Linked DNA regions of Homo sapiens. The protein of the gene in region 2 purifies or fractionates together with the protein of the main gene of each other region. This does not show direct contact. Each region holds a gene or a part of one and is shown on either strand. Other genes may lie near its edges.

The links. The genes of interacting proteins can lie anywhere in the genome.
Region 1: the proteins of HOXD4 (region 2) and ANKHD1 purify together in Homo sapiens (affinity purification with mass spectrometry, with the first as the bait; 2 studies listed by BioGRID). This does not show direct contact.
Region 3: the proteins of HOXD4 (region 2) and ANKRD17 purify together in Homo sapiens (co-immunoprecipitation; 3 studies listed by BioGRID and IntAct, with this or other methods). This does not show direct contact.

What each region holds. Positions count from the first base shown.
Region 1 is NC_000005.10:140,397,190-140,404,849, reverse strand, and holds the start of ANKHD1 (ankyrin repeat and KH domain-containing protein 1), read right to left. Parts: upstream 3,018-7,660; 5' UTR 2,883-3,017; coding exon 2,577-2,882; intron 1-2,576. Other genes in the region: ANKHD1-EIF4EBP3 protein, read right to left, coding at 2,577-2,882. UniProt on the Homo sapiens protein: May play a role as a scaffolding protein that may be associated with the abnormal phenotype of leukemia cells. Isoform 2 may possess an antiapoptotic effect and protect cells during normal cell survival through its regulation of caspases.
Region 2 is NC_000002.12:176,147,674-176,153,738, reverse strand, and holds HOXD4 (homeobox protein Hox-D4), read right to left. Parts: upstream 2,190-6,065; 5' UTR 2,106-2,189; coding exon 1,673-2,105; intron 1,211-1,672; exon of another isoform or gene 1,132-1,210; coding exon 797-1,131; 3' UTR 513-796; downstream 1-512. UniProt on the Homo sapiens protein: Sequence-specific transcription factor which is part of a developmental regulatory system that provides cells with specific positional identities on the anterior-posterior axis.
Region 3 is NC_000004.12:73,255,782-73,262,868, forward strand, and holds the start of ANKRD17 (ankyrin repeat domain-containing protein 17), read right to left. Parts: upstream 3,018-7,087; 5' UTR 2,888-3,017; coding exon 2,495-2,887; intron 1-2,494.

The sequences.
Region 1 (7,660 bases), on a different chromosome or scaffold from region 2:
AGTAGCGTGTGCCTATAGTCCCAGCTACTTAGGAGGCTGAGGTAGGAGGACCACCCGAGCCCAGGAGTTTGAGGCTAGCCTGGACAACATAGCAAAACCTGTCTCAAAAAAAAAAAAAAAATTAAGGCCGGGCGTGGTGGCTCATGCCTGTAATCCCAGCACTCTGAGAGGGCGATCACCTGAGGTCAGGAGTTTGAGACCCACCTGGCCAACATGGTAAAACCTCGTCTCTACTAAAAATACAAAAAAATTAGCCAGTCGTGGTAGCAGGCACCTGGAATCCCAGTTACTAGGGAGGCTGAGGCAGGAAAATAGCTTGAACCTGGGAGACGGGGGTTGCAGTGAGCCAAGATCGAGCCACCGCACTCCAGCCTGGGTGACAAGAGCAAGACACAGTCTCAAAAAAAACAAAAAAAACAAAAAATTAAAATTAAAAAAAAAGGCAAATGAGTGACCTTTCATCTCACCCATGACAATTATGTAAAAATGGTCAAGAAAATCAAGGTCCCCTTTTTCTATCACATTTAGACCAAAGCAAACTCTTTCAGATTCTCATTTACAAGTTTCATAGAAAATAAGCTCTAATCTTTAGTCTAAGGATATCCCCCACACTTCATTTCCTAGCTAAAAAGTACTGTGTTCTAGCTTAATCTCTCACGTTTCACTGAAAGGATAAAATAAAGCCTTCCACAAGACCAAGAGCAGGGATACTCCAGAGTCTCTCCCCATAACTGCCTACTCAAATAAAACATTTCTCTCACCTTGGCTTAGAAGTTATTTCCCTTACCGTGAAATTCAAAGACGTAGACATTCAAGGGACTACCCGCCTTATAACCCACACACTTTTTTTTCCAAAGCAAAATGTTAGGGTCAGAATGTACTAAGGTTTTAAATATTAAATAAAACCCTGTTCAGACCTAGAATGATAAGACAGTATACTAACTGCAGTCTGTAACCCACAAATAATTTCTCCTTATTCCTCTCAAATCCAAGAGCCGGGATTGTTAGTACACACAGAGAAATTCCTGTACTTTAACACCAAGACCAGAGGTTAAAATAACTGGTCACAGGTGACAACTCAGGCACCTCAGAACCAAAATAGAAGAAATACTCTGAGCACTTAAAACAATCACGGTACAGTACTCTACGCAAGCCACAGTCAACAGAAAAAAGTATACACATAAAATACCGCCCCTTGGGATCACAAGGTCAGGAGATCGAGACCATCCTGGACATGGTGAAACCCTGTCTTTACTAAAAAATACAAAATATTAGCCGGGAGTGGTGGCACGCGCCTGTAGTCCCAGCTACTCAGGAGGCTAAGGCAGGGGAATCGCTTGAACCCAGGAGGCGGAGGTTGCAGTGTGCCGAGATCGCGCCACTGCACTCCAGCCTGGCGACAGAGCGAAACTCCATCTCAAAAAACAAAAACAAAACCCGCCCCTTTTTCCCCAGAACCCAAAAGAAGTTAATGCCTACCATCCCAGGTTGCTCAGACCTAAAAATGTGTACACATTAGAGTACACACAGAAGAGTTAAAGAAATGAAGGACTTCACTGCAAAGGCAGAGTGAAGGTGTCCAGCCGGGCACGGTGGCTCATACCTGTAATCCCAGCACTTTGGGAGGCCGAGGCGGGCGGATCACCTGAGGTCAGGAGTTCGAGACCAGCCTGACCAACATGGTGAAACCCCGTATCTAATAAAAATACAAAATTAGTCGGGCGTGGTGGCGCACGCCTGTAATCCCAGCTACTCGGGAGGCTGAGGCAGGAGAATCGCTTGAACCCGGGAGGCGGAGGTTGCAGTGAGCTGAGATCACGTGTATTCTAGCGTGGACAACAAGAGCGAAACTCCATCTCAAAAAAAAAAAAAAAAAAAAAAAAAAGAAGAGGTTTCCACAGGTTGCCCCACTTTCTCCAAGCCTAAAACCTCCGAGTTCAGCTACCCAGCTATTCCGAAGCTCAGGGATGCCCTGGAACTTCCTTTTCCTGTCTAACTTCACAAAAGGTCCCAGAAGGAGGAGTCACGTGATTTTTCAGGGTAAAAGCCGAGAGATCCCTAATACTCAAACCTGTCTCAAACTGAAGAGGGAGAATAAGAACCGTCCTTAAGCACACAGGTAAGACACACACAAGGCAGAAGGCAAATAAACGTATCCCTCAACTCTGAGGAGAGGCAAAGAAGAGAAACGATCTTTGCACCAGCTCTGTCTCTGTCTCTGTTTGTCTCTCTCAGTACCAAGGGCAGGGACTCTGGCAAGACCCCGCCCCCCACCCCCAACTCCAAAGCAGGGTGGGCGGGAGGCAGCCTGAGGAGTCCCTGTTCCCGCGCGAAGCTCAGAGACCAAAGGACTCCCTATTGTGGGTCTACGAATGGTGACGGGAACCTGTCCCGCTCGAGCTAAAGAGTAAGCCGAGGGCTCACTAGGCCCTCACCGCGGCCACCGCCGCCATGGAGCCGACCGCTGTCACAGAAGGGCTCCACCAGGGAAGCGGGAGGATGGCCCCGGCCCAGAGCCTACCCAAAGAGAATTCACGCCTCACAATGTGTGGGAGGCGAGGGTCCCGGAGCCTTACCTCGGACACTTCGTCCTCGTCACTGCCAGAGGCACCACCTCCACCCCCGGTCCTCAGCACGGCAGCCGCCAACTTGAAATCCAGCGCCGCGTCCCCTCCGCCCGTACCGCTGCCGCTGCCGCCGCCGCCGCTGCTGCCGACTCCCGACGCTGGCCCGGCCTCCCCAAAGAGCCTCACGGTGCGGATCCCCAGACCGACCCCTCCCGGCGGAGGCGGCTCCGAGGCCCCAGCTGGGGCGGATCGCGGAGCCACAGAGTCCAGGTCCTCCTCAAAGGAGGTGCCGCCGCCTCCGCTATCAGTCAGCATTGTTCGCACCCGGAGCCGGAGACGGTGCCGACCCACTCGCGGTCACCGCCGCCGCTGATCTCGGGAACGAGAAGAGCAGCAAGAGGAAGAAGCGTCTCCTTTCCCCCGTCCCAGCAGCGCCACTAACTTCTCACTGCCTAACCTGCTGCCTCCCGCCCCCTCGACTCGCCACTGGCTGCAATACCCTGGCGGCTGCAGATCATTGGCCAAAGTGACCCGTCGCTCAGGCTCTTCGTCACGCGCCGCTCGCTGGCTCGCAGCCGCCAAGCTGCGTTGACCCGCGCAGGCCTAGGCGGTTGCGAACACCCGCCTCCCACTCTTCACCAGCTGACTTCCGCTCTTTTCCTATGTCTATTGGCCAACCCGCCTGACTATCGCGTCACGACCTTAAAGTGGATTAGTTGGCCTTGTGGTCAGTCATAGTGACCCCGAACAATGGGAGAATTCATTGGCGCCATAAAGTGTCGGTCACTTTGTCGCGGGACGTCGCGTGGTACAATTGGCCTGTGGGAGTACCATTGATCCCGCCCTCATCTGAGGTGACGGGAAAGGGCCGGGAAATTTCCACTTCTGAATAAAATGACTGCTGAAGTGATGACCCGCAAGAATTGGTCAAATTTGGAGTAGACTTCACCCTGCGCTTGGTGAAACTTCTACGTCAAGGATGCAAGAGGCGCCGAAGTAACGCAGCTCCCACCTGTCGCTCTCCGCTGGGCGCCGAGACTATGGCCGGAGAATAGCTGCACCGGGATTGGAGAAAGGAAGCCATCAGTCTTAGGAAGGCTCCACCTTCCTGCCATTGCCTGGTTGGAGGAGCGTAGCGTCAGTCACTAGAGCAGTCACCACCTCTGGGACAGGTGAAGATGTGTAACCTATTTGCCGGGGGCTATTTGGGAGGGAATAGAGGACGGGGAGCGATGAGGGGACAGTCGAGGGGCAAGGCCGATCTCGCTTCGCGCCTCCCGCCTTTCTGAGTTGAGCCTAGCGCGCGGGTCTGAGGGACATCCGGGGAGCTGCTTGGGATGGCCGCCTTGGGGAGACTCGACCCGCCCGCCAGGACCCGGCCGCGCGCCGCAGTTCGGGCGCCTTCGGGCAGGATCGCCCAGCGGGGCCGCGTTCTCCTGCTTGCGGACGGCTGCGGGCCTGAGGGCTGGACAGCGCCATGCCTCAGTACCGGGAACTGTCCCACGTAGGAAGGTGGGAATGCCGCGAACGGCGTGCGGAATCCGACCTCAAGGTGGAACGGGGTGGTGAAGAGTGCATGCTCCGAGGCAGTTTCGAGTTCTGGTGCTGCCACTTACTTGCTGCCTGACTTCGGCGCGTTTGCTGTTTCATTTTTGTGACTTTCAACTCGCTCCTCTGTGAAATGGGAGTAATATTAGTACCTTCCTCATTGGGTTGTTGTTATGAATAAATTAGATGATAATATAGCGCTTAGCAAAGTCCCAAACTTACAGGAAAGACTCATTTTTGCTAGTTATTGTCTCCTCTTCCTTCAGGAACTCTCTGCTCGCCCCTGGGTCCTGCCAGCCCAACTAATTCTAGTTCTAATCAGATCTGTGTGGTGCAAAACAAGGCTAGCTGTGGTGGTCTTCCCTCCTCTAAGGAGATCTCTTCCTCCCTATATGCATCTCTCTATCTCTGTCTTTATCTTGTCAGTAAAGAGGGGGGTTAAAAATATTCAGATTCTATAGCGGGCGCCGTGGCTCACGCCTGTAATCCCAACACTATGGGATGTTGAGGCGGGCGGATCATTTGAACCCAGTAGTTCGAGCCCAGCCTAGGCAACATGGTGAAATCCCGTCTTTACCAAAAATACAAAAATTGGGCTCGGCGCGGTGACTCACGCCTGTTAATCCCAGCACTTTGGGAGGCCTAGGTGGGCGGATCATTTGAGGTTAGGAGTTCTAGACCAGCCTGGCCAACATGGCGAAACCCCGTCTATACTAAAAATACAAAAATTAGCCAGATGTGATGGTGCGTGCCTGTAATCCCAGCTACTCGGGAGGCTGAGGCAGGAGAATCACTTGAACCCAGGAGGCGAAGTTTGCAGTGAGCCAAGATCGTGCCACTGCACTCCAGGTTAGGCGACAGAGCAACACATCGTCTCAAAAAAAAAAAAAAAATTAGCCGAGCATGGTGGTGCATGCCTGTAATTCCAGCTACTCAGGAGGCTGAGGTGGGAGGGATCCCCTGAGCCTGGGAGATGGAGGTTGCAGTGAGCCGAGATCGTGCCACTGAACTCCAGCCTGAGCAACAGAGCGGTGCCCTGTCTAAAAAAATTAAAAAAATAAAAAAAAAACGGTTTCTATCTAATCCTTTAATCAGACATGACCAAAAAAGGAGTCTGGTGGTTTGTATGGAAAATATCCTTTGACCCAGAGAATGTCCATATGATAACAGAATTTGGCTGAAAAAAAAAAAAATGGCCGGGCGCAGTGGCTCACACCTGTAATCCCAGCACCTTGGGAGGCAGAGGTGAGCGGATCACGAGGTCAGGAGATGGAGACCATCCTGGCCAACATGGTGAAACCCCGTCTCTACTAAAAATACAAAAATTAGCCAAGTGTGGCGGCGCGTGCCTGTAATCCCAGCTACTCGGGTGGCTGAGGCAAGAGAATCGCTTGAACCCAGGAGGCGGAGGTTGCAGTGAGCCGAGATCGCACCACTGCACTGCAGCCTGGCGACAGAGCAAGACTCAGTCTCAAAAAAAAAAAAAAAAAGTCATTTTCTCCTCTCTTACAACTTTAACAAAGGCCTTTATATATCTCAACTGTGCAATATTTAATATTTCGTCATCCTTAAACTGGGATCTTAAAATTTTATAAGAATATAATGATTTTTAAAATAACTTTAAAAGTTGATTCTGCCAAACATTTATTTAAAAAACATTTTGAATATCATAAACATTTCTTTGGCTTAGTAATTGCTCATTTTGACATTTCACATGTAAAGGATAGTGTTTTCTATGAGCAGAACATGTTTGTTAAATGTTCTTTCTAGATAATAAATAAGTTGTAGAAAATGTTAAAAAAAAGTCTTGTACCTATTCTAGAGAACTATTTTAATGTAAATGCTATGTACACTGGCTTTAGTTAGCATTTGTGGAACTTAATTAGCCTATATCCTCAGTGCTGTTAAGTTTTCAAGGCATGTGTGACTAAGTCACAACCCAAACTAATAACACCAACAAAAGAAACCTGGCACTGCCCAACCCACTTCAAAGCTGGATTATCCAGAATTGGTATGGATACATCCTTAGGCAAAAACAGGTATTGACTGGTACAGCATTACAAAGGAACTAGTTGTCATGCTTACTACTGATACAAAAATAATTTCTGATGCAACTCCCTGAACAAACTCATTAAATTCTTTAAACAAATACAATGACTCTCAAGGACACAGGGAAAGGAAATCTGGATATATATACATTTTTCTCAATTTATTTGAGAGGGAAGAAAACACTCTCTTTACTCAGTGCCTAGCAACTAACCCTGAGTATAGCTAAAGAAATGTGATTGAGCAATAATCTTTGTTTCACCAGGACCTTTACTTGAGATACTTGTCAGTAGTTTGACAGTCAGTATGGGAATTAGGAACTCCTAGTCTCCTATATTTTGGTGACTGCTATATAGAATCTCTATTAAATGTGATTTAATGGCTGGGCATGGTGGCTCACGCCTGTAATCCCAGTACTTTGGGAGGCCAAGGTGGGTGGATCACCCGAGGTCAGGAGTTCCAGACCAGCCTGGCCAACATGATGAAACCCCGTCTCTACTAAAAATACAAAAAATTAGCCAGGCGTGGTGGTGGGCGCCTATAATCCCAGCTACTCAGGAGGCTGAGGCGGGAGAATTGCTTGCACCTGGGAGGCAGAGGTTTCAGTGAGCCAAGATCACACCACGGCACTTCAGCCTGGGCAACATGAGTGAAACTTTGTCTCGAAAAAAAAAAAAAAAGAAAGAAAGAAAATGTGATTCAATAGTTCCATATATACTACATTCCTATGGTTTTAAAATTTGAAAACTCATTGATAAATCATCACAATATCAAGTGATACATTTGACAAATAAATAAAATCACACTCAGGCCAGGTATGGTGGCTCATGCCTGTAATACCAGCACTTTGGGAGGCTGAGGTGGGTGGATCACTTGAGGTCAGGAGTTCAAGACCATCCTGGCCAACATGGTGAAATCCTGTCTCTACTAAAAATACAAAAATTGGGCTGGGTGTGGGGTCTCATGCCTGTAATCCCAGCACTTTGGGAGGCTGAGGCGGGTGGATCACAAGGTCAGGAGTTCGAGACCAGCCTGATCAACATGGCGAAACCCCATTTCTACTAAAAATACAAAAATTAGCTGGGCGTGGTGGCACGCACCTGTAATCCCAGCTACTCAGGAGGCTGAGTCAGGAGAATCGCTTGAATCTGGGAGGCAGAGGTTGCAGTGAGCTGAGAACACGCCATTGCACTCCAGCCTGGGTGACAGAGCGAGACTCTGTCTCAAGAAAAAAAATGGAGTGGAGATTTGCTCAGTGGCAGTATCATAGCCAAAGGCATCATTATTGCTAATTGAAAACTTTTCCCAATAACCTGCCATGGCCTTGAAATATAGTAAGCATTGGGAATTTTGAGTCTCTATGGAATAAAGAAGAAAAAAAAGCCAGTGGGACTATTTAGAATCTACTTATAATGTGTTTCAAAGCACTGTGTTTTGACCATCTTTCAGATCAAGAAGGATAAAAAACACATGGCCGGGCACGGTGGCTCACACCTGTA
Region 2 (6,065 bases):
TTGCTTCCTTCTGGAAGGGTTAAGGCCCCCCTATATACATTTCCAGAGAGTGGGGAGGGGTGGAGTTCAGAAGTAAGTGCACATATCTCTGATTCTGCTCCCTGAAGTTCAGCCCCTTTCACCTTTTTAAGATTTTTGGCATGAAGGTGTCAGTTATTTCTGTACCACATTTCCCAACAAATAAATATTTAAGCAAATATCTAAACATAAAATAACCCATTTTTACTTCCTTCTTAGACCCATTTCTTTGGAGGTGGGGCCACTGGGAGCAAAATATATATTTTTTAATCACATGAAATTCCATAGACAACCCAGAAAGTCCAGAAATCCTGACCCAGCTCTCTGGCTTCCACTGAAAGCACCTAGCACAGGGGTGGCCAACCTTCTGCCTCAACTCCCCCACATTATTAAGCCACAAAGCACCCTGGAGGGGTGGAGTGGGGGAGAATGTCCAAATTCACAGTGGGATAAAGCATCCAACCTTCATTTGCAAATTCAAAATCCAAGAGCGGTGATTTTCATAAGTTTAATGACTCGCCAAGATTTTATGTTCTCAGTAGCTCCTGCCATATAATATACTTAGAGAGAGAATCCCGCCCCCCCTCCCATCCCCATCCCGCTCTAGGGAGGGGGCTGCCCTCGGGCAGGATGCTAACCTAGTCCGAGGGCGGCCTGCTTGTCCCAGGTCCACCCCACAGTACCTTAGAGCCCAGCGAGGTGACAGCAGGCCCGGCCTGCCCCCGCAGCTTCGGCTCAGCCTGGTGCGCAGGGAGAGATGGGCCCAGGGTCCCCACTTCTATAAGGTCGTCAGGTCCGTGTGGTGGTCTTTGGCCATCGGCTGTAAATGCTGGCTGGGGGCGACTGAGGAGGAGCAAGATGAGGAGGAAGATGAGGACGATGACCTGCCTTTAGTGTTGGGCAGCTTATGATCTTTTTTCCACTTCATCCTCCGGTTCTGGAACCAGATCTTGATCTGGCGCTCCGACAGACACAGGGTGTGAGCGATTTCAATCCGACGGCGCCTTGTCAGATACCTGTTAAAATGAAATTCTTTTTCCAGTTCTAGGACTTGCTGCCGGGTGTAGGCCGTTCGGGACCGCTTGGGTTCCCCACCGGTGTAGTTGGGGTTCACTGCGAGACAAAACAGACAGGACAGGCAGGTCAGCGCCCGGCCACTAGTTAGGCCCCTCGCCTCCGCCGCTCACTTCCTGGCGCGCCCCGAGGCCCGCGGCCCTCCCCGCGCGCTCCCAAGCTCGCTTGCTTCCTCCCTCCCGCCCTCTCCCCGGCGCACACGCTCACTCCCACCCACCTCCTCAAACACACCCACATACCCCAGGCTTGCGGGATCCCCAAATGTGCTCCTTCTTCTGGGCCCACCACCAGGTCCGGAACCCTCAAGCATTTTGGAAATCCCCCGCTCCTCCACAGCCTTCCCCCTGCTCTGAAAATGGAGTCCTCCCCCACCCCCCCATCCCCACCCCCTTTTGCGCCCACAGCCGAGCAGCCAGCCACATGGTCCTGACCTGCTCCCTCAGCTATAAAAATTTATGGGGAGAGTAATTGCGGCGCCCATGGAAGCTCCACACGCCCCCACCTACTCGCACCCCCTTCCAGAGGACCCAGGCTAACGGGCTGGGATGTGGACAGAAAGGTTACTGGACCCTAGCCTTACCCGAATTCACGTGCACCTTCTTCATCCAGGGGTAGACCACGGCCGGCTGCTTGAGTGCCGTCCCGGAGGGCGGCTGCTTGGGGTCGGACTGACTGTAGGCCCGGGCGCCAGGCAGGGGCGCCGGCGGAGGCGCCGGGGGAGCTGGGCAAGGCTCTCCTGGAGCGGCGTAGTGACCGCCGGGGCCGCCTGGCTCTTGTCCGTGACCCCGCGCAGGCAGCGCCGAGCCAGGCCCGGGGCCGCTGCCTCCGAAAGGCTGCTCACCGAAGTCGGGCCGTGGGTAGAGCCCCGGGGGCTGGAAGTCTGCGCCCTGCGCGCCGCCGCCGTAGTAGTCGGCGCCCTGCTCGCCTAGGTAGCCGCCCTGCAAATACTCCTCGCACGGAGGGAACTTGGGGTCCACATACTTGGAGTTCACCATATACGAACTCATGACCATTAATTTCAGAAGGTAGAAAATACTAATTTTTCTCGTGTTGTCTTTTTTTCTCCTTCCATAGGGCCCTCCTACTTGCTGTCAACTGAATAAAGTTGGGCAGCCATGTGACCAGGCCAGCCAATGGCGAGGGAGCAAGTTTATCACCGGGTTGGTGAGCATCTCATAATTTTCACAAATTTAACTAAATAACATACGTGTAATCAAGTAGCTTGCTATGGCACATTTGAGAGCCCCTGCCAGATATTAATGTAGTTCCAGTCCCCAGCACCCCATTCCCCTCAGGTAATCCCAGCTTTTGTCTGCCACTGATTTTGCCAACCTTCCGTGGCCCTTCCACTCACCCCCAGCTGAATGCAACCCCCGCCCCCCGACACCAAGTAGGCACAGCTCAAGGGAGAATGAATCCTCCTATTGGGGTACAGAGCAATGAAAGGTGGGTGGGTGAACTCGCCTCTGAGTTGGGCAGAGTGCCCCAGGCGAGGAGGGTTCCTGCCTGCCCGCCCTGCCTGCAGCCGGCGGGAGCAGGGATTCTGCCATACAAAGGCCGCCGTCCTGGCTTTGTCTTCATCAGGGTCACCCAAAAGTTACCAGAATCTGGCCAGCTTGAATCAAATTAGGCAATGAGTAACCGCCATGCTTTCTACCAGTGCCCAGGCCCGGGGGTTCCCAGCCAAAGCTGGGCCCTGCCAAAATAGCAGGGGGCCCTCGCTGCCCTTGCCCATGTAGCTGGGGGTGGGCTGGGATGGTGGCAAGGGCACCTCCACCTTGTCAAAATGCACCCTAGAGCTCCCCACTGGGCTTCTTTGAAGCTTGCTTTCTTCCCACAGGCCCCAAATACAAGCAAGCCCCCATTTGGGTACCTTTGCACCTCATGTTCCTGGAGGGCAGAGCTGGGACTGGGCAAGCTGGCCTTGTACCTCACTCCCTAGTACCCCAAAACCTAGCCCTTTGGCCCTGCATCCATGCAACCAATTAGGCTTGCATTCTCTCTTTCTCTCTCTCTCTCTCTTTCTCTCTTTCTGTCTTTCTTTCTTTTCAGCACCCAGAGGATACTCTGTTTAAAGGTGAGGAGCTTCTGGAGAGGAAAAGCTGCTCTATGTCACCAGGCGCAGCTGATCCTCCTGGAGTCCAAGGTAATAAAACAGAACGAGGCGGCTGACCAGCGCCGGCTGCTTCTAGTCTCCATGTCGCACTTTGGTCTCTGGCTATTCCGAAGAAACGTGAAGTTTTTGCATCGACCATATATTCCCCTAGAATCGAATCTGTGACTATACGGATACCACACAAATTCGGTTCTACAGGGTATATATAGACAACGTTACAACCTCTGGGTCCCACCCAGAGTGAGGTACCTAGGTCGCTGCCGGCCCCAATCTCTTCCTCTGAGCCACCACCGTTCGACGCAGCCACCCGCACTTTCTGAGACAGTTCAGGTAGCCTAATGGGCTTGGCGACAATTTGAAGCAATGAGTTCCCTCATTCTTCTGCCAGGGTCAGGGTTACCAAGCAGGCGAACAACCAGAATATTCTTCTTAAGAAAGAAAAAAAGAAAGAAAGAAAGAAAAATAATCCATCCCAAGGATGGCGGCTTTATTAACCACCCTCCCCCACCAGGATCCAAATAACCCTCCTCCTTACCAAGTGGTATTTTCCAGAAAGGAACAAATGCCCTCAGCGGCAGAAGAAAAAGAAGCGAGAGGGGAATATCCTGTGTCTACTCCTTTTCCTACTGCCCGACCAAGCCAGGTTGTCTGCCAAAGCTACTTCTCCAAGAAGTCGCGCATTTACCTTCATGGGCCCTGATCCGGGCTGGCCTCTCCGTTCCGCTGCTGCTGCAGACCCCGAGGCAGGCGCTGCTCACAGGCACCGAGCCGCCTTGGGCTGAGGCCGGCGCGCTAATGGTGAAGGGCAGGGCGAGGGGTCATTCGAAATCATTTACAAACATATCACAAACTTTCATTATTTTTGCTTTGCCGACAGCAGCACACAAGAGTACAAAAGTTCACAAATTTCACCCGCCCCAGCGCCTCGGCACTGTGCAGTGCTTGTCCCTCAGTTCAGGGCATGGAGAGCGCAGACTCACTCAGAGCCTCGATGGATTTCAGGGGCACAGGGATGCCCTGGCTCGAGTGGGGCTTTTGGGTGCCTAACTGTAGGCTGAAGGTGTTAGATTTTTTTTTAACTGTCTTGATTGCCCTTCCTACCTCCCACATAATTCAAAATTTAGTTTCAAGCCTGGGCCTGGGCCTGGTGGGGTGGGGCAGGGATACTCCCCCTCCAAGCCTGGCACTTTGCTCATCCCCCCATCCTTTGCTTCCACCACTTTACCTGTTTCGTAGGGATTTTGGGGGCGCCAGTTCTAACAAGGGCTATGAGGCTGCAGAATCTGTTTATCCCAGGAGAGTCCCCCCAATTTCCCTGAATGCCAAAGACTCCCAAGTATCCACCTTCCTGGGACACTGGGCCTAGGCTCTATCCAGACAAATTGGGGGAGCCTGCTGAGCCGGCTGGAGACCGGGGTGAATATACACATTTTCATATTTGTTAGACGCTGTGACCTGCATTTCACCTTATTGCTCGACTTGTTCAGACAGGTCAAAGCCAACGAGTTATTGATGAACAAAAGCGTTAAATATTCACCTCCCGCTCAACTGCCCATACTAATGCTTTTGATCTCTAGGGCTTTTTGTGCTGTGTTCAGCTACAGGGCGCTGAATGTGGGTTTGCTAGCGAGAAGCTTCTGCAGAGATAAGCACCCAGAGCCAGTGCAGGGGAGGAGAGAAGCAAGACCAGAGGTCCCCAGGACACCAGATTTTCCAGACTGGAGCCCAGAGCCCCTTTCACTTGAGCCAGCCTGGTGTATAGGGGTAGTTGCTCTTCTAGGGGTGTGCACAGTCTACAAAGGGTCGACTAGACTGCCCAGCCCAGCGGGGCCAAAAAACCTGTCTCTGAGGCCAGCCCCAGCTTTTCCAACCAAGAAGGAGGGAGACTGGTTCCTGCAGCCCTCACATATTCCAACTCCCATTAAAATAAAATCACTTCCGTTTTGCAGTGAGGGAGGGGCCACAGTTCTTTCTGTGACTCTCCCTCCAATACCATCGTCTTAATGAGATGGTCCTCCAGGAGGCTTCACAGGCCTAATCAGAAATGTACCTGTCTTTCGCGGCACAGGCAACTCAGAAAGATCCAAACATCCAAGCCAAGGATCCCACGAGTCTCTGGCCCCACCCCACCGCATCCACCCCACTCCACCCTCCTATGCCTCCTTGCAGCACCAGCGCCTCTGGGGCGGAAATTCTCCAACTGCAGTTACAGAGAAGCAGAGGTGAAAAGAAGGTCCGTATCCCTCCTCGCTCAGCCAGTGTCCCAAGCCCAGGGCCCACACCGCTGCAAACAGATCGGGGGAGGGGCGGGGAAGGAATGTCCACATAAAGCTCAGAAGCGGGCAACTCAACACACCCACGGCCACAGAGGATTGAGTTTTTGTTTTCAGTGAATTTTTTTAAAAACAGAAGGTTGGCCAGGCTAGACCAGGTTAAGAAGGGTTGGGCTGCGGAGGGGACCGCATTGCCTTGGTGTTTACTGCGTTGGTTTGAAGCCGCTAATAAGACAGGCTGCTAATTAGCAAGCTCTTAACAGAAGTGAGCGCCTTGGCGGAGCTGCACCTGTGCAGAGCAGGGAAGGGCCGCGAAGGTCTAGGGAGGCCCAAGGAGACAAGGGCGAGACCCCGCGGACCGTTCTCTCAGGCAGGTGTCTGTGAACCAGGCCCCAGAAAAGCTTTCCGGGACCTCGATTTAGCGCCTCCACCTCCCGAAGCGGGCTAACCTCGCAGAGCGAGGCCGGGGGTGGAGGGTGGGGGTGGGGTGGGGGAGGCAGGGCCTTTCTTCTATCCGCCCACTCCGCTGGCTTGGCCCCTTAGCCCACCACTTCCCCGCGATCAGTACCGTCTCTTCGCGATTC
Region 3 (7,087 bases), on a different chromosome or scaffold from region 2:
GGTGCAATCTCAGCTCACTGCAACCTCCACCTCCCGGGTTCAAGCAATTCTCCTGCCTCAGCCTCCCAAGTAGCTGAGATTACAGGCATCTGCCACCACACTCGGCTAATTTTTTTGTATTTTTAGTAGAGATGGGGTTTCACCATGTTGGCCAGGCTGGTCTCAAACTCCTGACCTCAGGTGATCCGCCCGCCTCGGTCTCCCAAAGTGCTGGGATTACAGGCGTGAGCTACCACGCCCGGCCAATGGGCACACTTTCTTACACGTATTTCTCCTGACTCATCTTCATAAATGACAAACCCATTGTTTAACACCATGTAAAAGACAGGATAAGGTATGTTAAAAACATAGAAATACTACCATAGTTGGTGAAAGTCAACATAACCATTCCTATATTACAAAAGGAAAACAAACCTGACCCACAAAATAAACATACCTACAAACTTACAGCCATTCTTCATGATTTAAGGAATTACTAAAAGTTCTGCTTATTAGGCCGCATTCCAATGGACAAAACTACCTAGGTATGTTAAGTTTGCAGCAGAATATCCCAGTAAGTACTGCATTCAACTATCATAACCTTGCTCTAAACCAGAGCTTAATAGTTTCACGAGAATTTAAAATTTTAAGTAATGGTATTTTGCCTATAGCTGCATGATTGTGTTACCTTGCTATTCAGTAACTATTTTTCTGAATGATATCAGGAGGGTGATAAAAGGAAATAAATTATTATTAAAAAGTGTACAGGTCTGAGACATTAGAAAACTTTGATTTGTACTTTTGCTACTACCCACCACAACCACTTTCCTCTAAACCTTGTTTTCCTCCTTTTTAAAATAAAGGGCTGAATTACCTGTAAAATGTTTCTCACCTTTGAGAAGAATCATACAATTGAATGATTCTAAGTACCATAACAAATTTTATTAGGGATAAGGACCCCATTACATCTTTCTCTTCCTTGTTTCAAATGCCGCCAGAGCAACACACTATCCTAAACATCCAAGTAGGCCAATATAAGTCTATCAATACAAACCTATTCTCAGAATCCAACAGGCTAAAAGGGAATAAAAACAAGGACTGGCATATTTTTGTCATACATACTTCAGCACTTAATATCTCTACCTATACAACTTCATCCAGTCTGAGATAAAAGAGAATCTGGTCTTCTACAAATAGACATGTGTCAAATCCTTTAAAAGGTACTTCTCTATTTCAACAGAGACCAGGATTCAATAATTCCAATTTTCGGAAAACCAGACTTGCATCAAAATAAGTTCCATGTTTGTGGAAGAGAATAAATAGTAAGTGGTACTTTTAGATGAATCACTTGGTCTCCTCTTAGAACTAAGTTTAAAATCAGCCTTTAAAGCTGTTTTCCCTCTGCTGATAAAGATTTCCCTCTCCAAATAAAGATTTTTCTAGATTCTATTTCAGGAAGGAGACAAGAGAGTGGTAAAACAGCTAATAACTAGTAAAGCTAACTCTCAGTTGGTTGTCAGTATGGTATGTTTTACTGAGCCTTTGGGTTGTAAGGGCTTCTGTGAGGAATAAGGTCCTGCAACGCCGCCTGTCTGTGGACCCAGGAAAAATTATAAAGTTATTATGAAACCAGATCACTAGGACAAACCGAGAGGCCTTCCTATTCCAACTCACCACAACCAGGCCTGGCTCCAAAGCCTACCCTTTGGCTGTCCCATATTACGGGACAACAGGTCCTAGCTTAATTCTAACTCACTAAGGAAACATTCGAAGGCATGTATGTATGTACGTGTAAGGATCAAATATATTTTTCATCCACTTACAAATGTATATGGTCATTTGTAATTATTTAAAGTTACTGATAAATTTATACAAATACAGCATCAGTTCATCGAAAATCCCTGGGAGATCGAGGAAATGAAGTTACTTCAGCAGCCAGGATAGTTACGAAAAACCCTGCAGAACAGTATGGAAAAGTACAGCTTCTCACGTGTCCCTCACATACACAAACACTTAGCTCTGAGTCCATTACAACCTTACGTCCCCCCTCAAACTGCTCCCCTCCACCTCACAACTGGGAGAAGTTGATCAACCTCCTAGTTGGTCCCCAAGAGACTCATTTACCCATTATTTTACTCCTCCCGCTTTGATCCCGATCCCGCCTCAGACTAAGGTGGCCCTACTGGCCCCAGGCAGACCACCCCCCCACCCCCCGGCGTGCAAACAGGGAATCTAACCAATTCCCTCCATCCTTAACCAAGTGAGCCATCCCATGATAACAGGCTGTTCACCAACTCTGTGAACTCCGTGGTCCTCCCACCCCCACGTGTCAGCTACCCTCCCCCACATTCCCACACCTCACGATTTAGGCCGAGGGAAGAAAGGGGGCAGTCGAAAGCCTGGCCCCTAAGAGATCAACCCACTGGAATCTGTCCCACTCCAAATCCCCTCCCACCTTCGGCCCCTATCCCTTACAGTCCCTTCCTCCCTCCTTCCTTTGAAACCAGGCCCTTGCCTCAGAAACCTCCTCTTCCTCGTCGTCGTCGTCCTCTTCTTCCTCGCTGTTGTTACTGCTGGTGCCGCCGCCGCCACCTCCGCCTCCACCGCCGCCTCCACCGCCGCCGCTGTTGTCGCTGTCGCTGCTGCTTTCGCTGCTGCTGGGGGGTCGGCAAGTCCGGTTACGCTTGGCCTTGTGGTGCTGCTGCTGCGGCGGCTTCTTCTTCAGGAGCAGGTCGCAGACTCGCACCATCCCACGAGGAGACGAGGCCGAGCGAGCTCTGCTGCTGCCGCCAACGCCGCCGCCGACCTCCGCCGCCGCGGGGGGGCCCGCCACAGCCGCCACCGCCGGGGGGCTCCCTTCTCCTTCTGCAGCCGTCGCCGCCGCCACCGGAACCGTCGCCTTCTCCATCCCCAGGGAAAGAGGGAGGGCGCGGACGGGGGAGGGGCGTGGGGCTACGCTCTACCGCGACTTCGGCCGCACTGGGGCCGACACAGCAATCGGTGCCGCCTCCGCCGCCACCGCCTCGGTCACCTCTACTGCCGCCGCCGCCGCCGCCGCTCCGCCAGCTCTCACCTCGTCTCGCGATACTAAGGGCGGGGAGCCTGACGATGGGAGGGAGGGAGGGAGGGAGAGGGAGGGAGCAAGGGAAGGAGGGTGAGGCGTAACAGGGAGACCGGGTGTCGGGAGAACCAGAGGAGAGGAGACTGGAAAGAAGCGGGGAAGTGTGCCTGGGGCAGCTTCCGAAGGGGAACGGCGGGGACAGATGAGGGGGGCGCGATTGCAACCAGAGCGCCCGCGAGCTCCCGGATTTCTTCTCTTTCCTCGCTATTTCCCGCACACACAGCCCTGCAGCCCTCCCTTCTTCCTTCCTGGCTTGTGATTAGAACGCAGCCGCAGGCGGAAGTGCAGTGACGCCATCAGCCGTCGCCTGAGCCGTGGCGCGCGGGTGGCCGAAAGGCGAAAGTGAGATTTCAAGGGCCGGGTCTGGGGCCCCGCGGGCGCGCAGTGCTGCGGCGTGTGGGGAGTACGGGGAGGCTGGAGAGGAGCCGGCCCCGGGCAGTGTGAGGTGCGGAAGCGCGGTCCAGACACTTTGCTGACGGGAGGCCGGTCCGCCAGATCCGGGAGGTGGGGCCTCGTTCTGGACTGCTGTACGTAGTTTTATTCCTGGTCATTTTTTTCCACCGCCAAATCGAGAGATAGAGCTTTGGATCATGAGAGATGGCGTCGTGTTGGGAAAAGAGCCTTCTTTACCTGAGTTTAAGCTCGGCTCATAGACATCCTCTACCTGAGTTTACACGTGTGTAATATGAAGGCAGTCGATTAGGAGATGTCTAAGATCATTACTTACACCTCAAGTTTCCAAGGGGAGGAAGACACGGGAAGGATGCGTGGTCTGTGCCAGACTTTGTAGACGATTCACTGAATGACCCTGATTTAGCTCTTCCGGCCCTCTTCGATTCAGCTTGGAAGCAAGCATAAATAGTGATTGTTGTCTGTATACTTCTCTCGGAAGGAATGCTGTTATGGGAGTTGTGGGTTCATTTTTAGGTGTCTGAAGAAGTTTCAGGACTTTTGAAATGATAGTGGAGCCCATTGAACTCAGAATTATCCCTTTCTGGTCTAGTAGGAGTATAGTGGCATACGGAAAATGAAGCAAACATCAAAGACAGATGTACTGGCACAAGATTAAAAGTATGTCTCAGCTGACATAGTTGCCATTTTAAGACTGCTTAGTTTAGCTGAATATGCCTGGATTTTTTTTTTTTTTAGCATTTTTTTTCTTTTTAGCATTGGCATACCATATGAAATGTGGGCAGTTGCCAGTACTCTACAGAGTACCAAGGCAGAATTGGCAATGACTAAATCAATTCATTCAAACAAAAATTCATCATGTGCCTACTGTGCGCATAATTTGTGGAATCAAAGTCTCTTGTTTCCAGGGGCTTTACAGTGTAATAAGTGCTATAGTAAATATATATACGGAGTGGTAACCATCTGCCTATTCCTCTCCTACAGTCGTTGCTGAGTTCCAGTGTAGAACAGAGCACTGCATTGTGTATCTCACCACTACTGATTTAGATTTTATAATTTCAGCTGCATCCCTCCCTCCTACTTTGTATATTCTTCAGCATCTTTTTCTCCCTTTCCACTTGAATACTTTTCGCAATCTTTAAATCCCAGCCCATTTTATTATATGACTTTTAACTTAGACTTCACAATTTTCCAAGTGCTAGAAATTTCCTGAGATTGCCTTTTCTCCAGTATCAACGAATGAGAGACTCCCTGTTCATATATGAGATAAACTCTTCATACATATTCTAGTTCCAATACCCCTCTTTCTCATGCATTTATTATCTTTTCTGTTGTCAACCTTCTACAAATTCTGGTTCCTTAGCTAATTCTTCTGTAGCTTTCAATTATTTCCTTCACAAGCAAACTTTCTTTCTTTAAAAAGTATTCTATACTCAGGAGGCTGAAGCAGGAGAATCGCTTGAACCTGCGAGGCGGAGTTTGCAGTGAGCTGAGATCCTGCTACTGCACTCTAGCTTGGGCGACAGAGCGAGACTCCATCTCAAAAAAAAAGTGTCTACAATCAGTGTCTTTTTTGTTTTCTGAAATTGACTTGTCAGCCCTCTGCAGTCTAGTCTCTGTGTCTATCGTGCTGTGCTACCAAAAATGCTCTCTTTAAAGTAATCTCATTGTTTGGAAGAAAATGAGTTTTTTGTTCTTTAATATAATAGTGAAATGATGATCCTGTTTCACTAGTAGGATAAGGTTCAAAACTATTAAAATGGACAAGGCATGTAAAGTCACTTTCTTTTATTTTTATCTTTTTTTCCCCCCGTTAGAACCTCTGGCAGGGACTGACTAGCCCATGAAACTTATTTCTTCTTCCCGGGCACACAGCTAAACTAAATTTCACAGCTTTCCTTGTAGTTGGTTATAGTCATGTGATGAACTTCTTTTTTTGAGACAGAGTTTAGCTCTTGTTGCTCAGGCTGGAATGCAATGGCACAATCTCAGCTCACCGCAACCTCCGCCTCCCGTGTTCAAGCGATTCTCCTGCCTCAGCCTCCCAAGTAGCTGGGATTACAGGCATGTGCCATCACACCCGGCTAATTTTGTATTTTTAGTAGAGACACGGTTTCTCCATGTTGGTCAGGCTGGTCTCGAACTCCCGACCTCAGGTGATTCCCCCACCTCGGCTTTCAAAGTGCTGGGATTACGGGCGTGAGCCACCGAGCCTGGCCGTGATTAACTTCTAGCCAATTAAATATGAATGGAAATGATGTGCTCATTTTTAGGGTTAATGAAGTCCTCCTATTCTCCCTTACTCTTTCTTCGTCAACTTGATGCCTTTGAGCATGGTGACCTTCAAAACTATGTATTGGAGATGCCAAAGCCAGAAAAGAGAAGAATGAGTGGCTGAAACAGTACTTGGAAGACAGCCACCCCAATTAGAAACACCCCTTTTTGCACTTACTGTAAGAGAAAAAATTGAGATTTGAGAATTTATATGTATAGGAGCTAGAATGACCATAGCTAGTCCAGAAATTGGTACAAGAAGTGGAGTACTGCTAAAACAATAACCTAAAATATGTTACATCAGCTTATTTATGATGCAGCAGGTGGTAGAGAATGTGATTTGGAGGCTAGAAAAAGGAGGCCCATGTTTGCAGTGGCAAAGTAATTAGTAAAACTGTCACCTGAAATAATTCAAAATCAGATCACCTATCTGTTTAGATTAGCTCCAGAGGAAATGATTGAAAAGAGCAAAAGTAATACTGTGTTGAATTTTACATTTTACTTTTAGTAAGGTTTTACTAAAGAGAGAAACTCAGGAAATACTTCACAGAAGTGAGAGTGTACAGGAATATTTCTCAGGAAGGGTTGGAAAAGTTGACTTTTATAAGACTTCTAATAAAAAAAAAAAAAAAACTAGAAGAGGTCTTGAGTATAGTTACCCTTGAGATTAAGTCCTGCAACAAAGATCAGGAAAAGGGTTTGGTCTTTCCATTCAAAGTCATTATTTTAGATGGCTTCAAGATAGCTACGATAAAGGTCTAAAGGAACTGGCATAGGAGCAAGGCAGCAAAGCAGTAAATTAGGCTTGATAATTATGTAAGAAAGAACTTTGGGTGTAGTTACCAGAAGCAAATCAATCAGAAGACTACATTTTTAGAGGAATTTTATTAATCATACTAAATCTGGCTCAAATATCATTGTTCGGGTGTTAAAACAGAGGGTAACTGTCCAACCCCAAGCTTGCATAAGTAGAAAAATAGAGCATAAAACCTTAACAGCTCCCCAGTACCCACACAGGATGTGGCCATGGAGAATGATGGACAAAAAAAGAACATTTCAGAAGCTCGTATAAGGAGCTGTACTAAAGACTGGACAGGGAGTTTCTCCTGAAGACTAGAATTGGAGTTTCATCAGAACTTTCTTCAGTTTCAAGGAGATGGGCCGCAAAATGTTTATGCAGTATTTCATCATTATTATACATGAATAGTATTGCTCAGTATCACATTTTTTTTCTGAATGAGAGAATGTATTATAGTTATCTGTCCCTGAGTTACCACTATATATTGGGTTTGCAGGGATGGG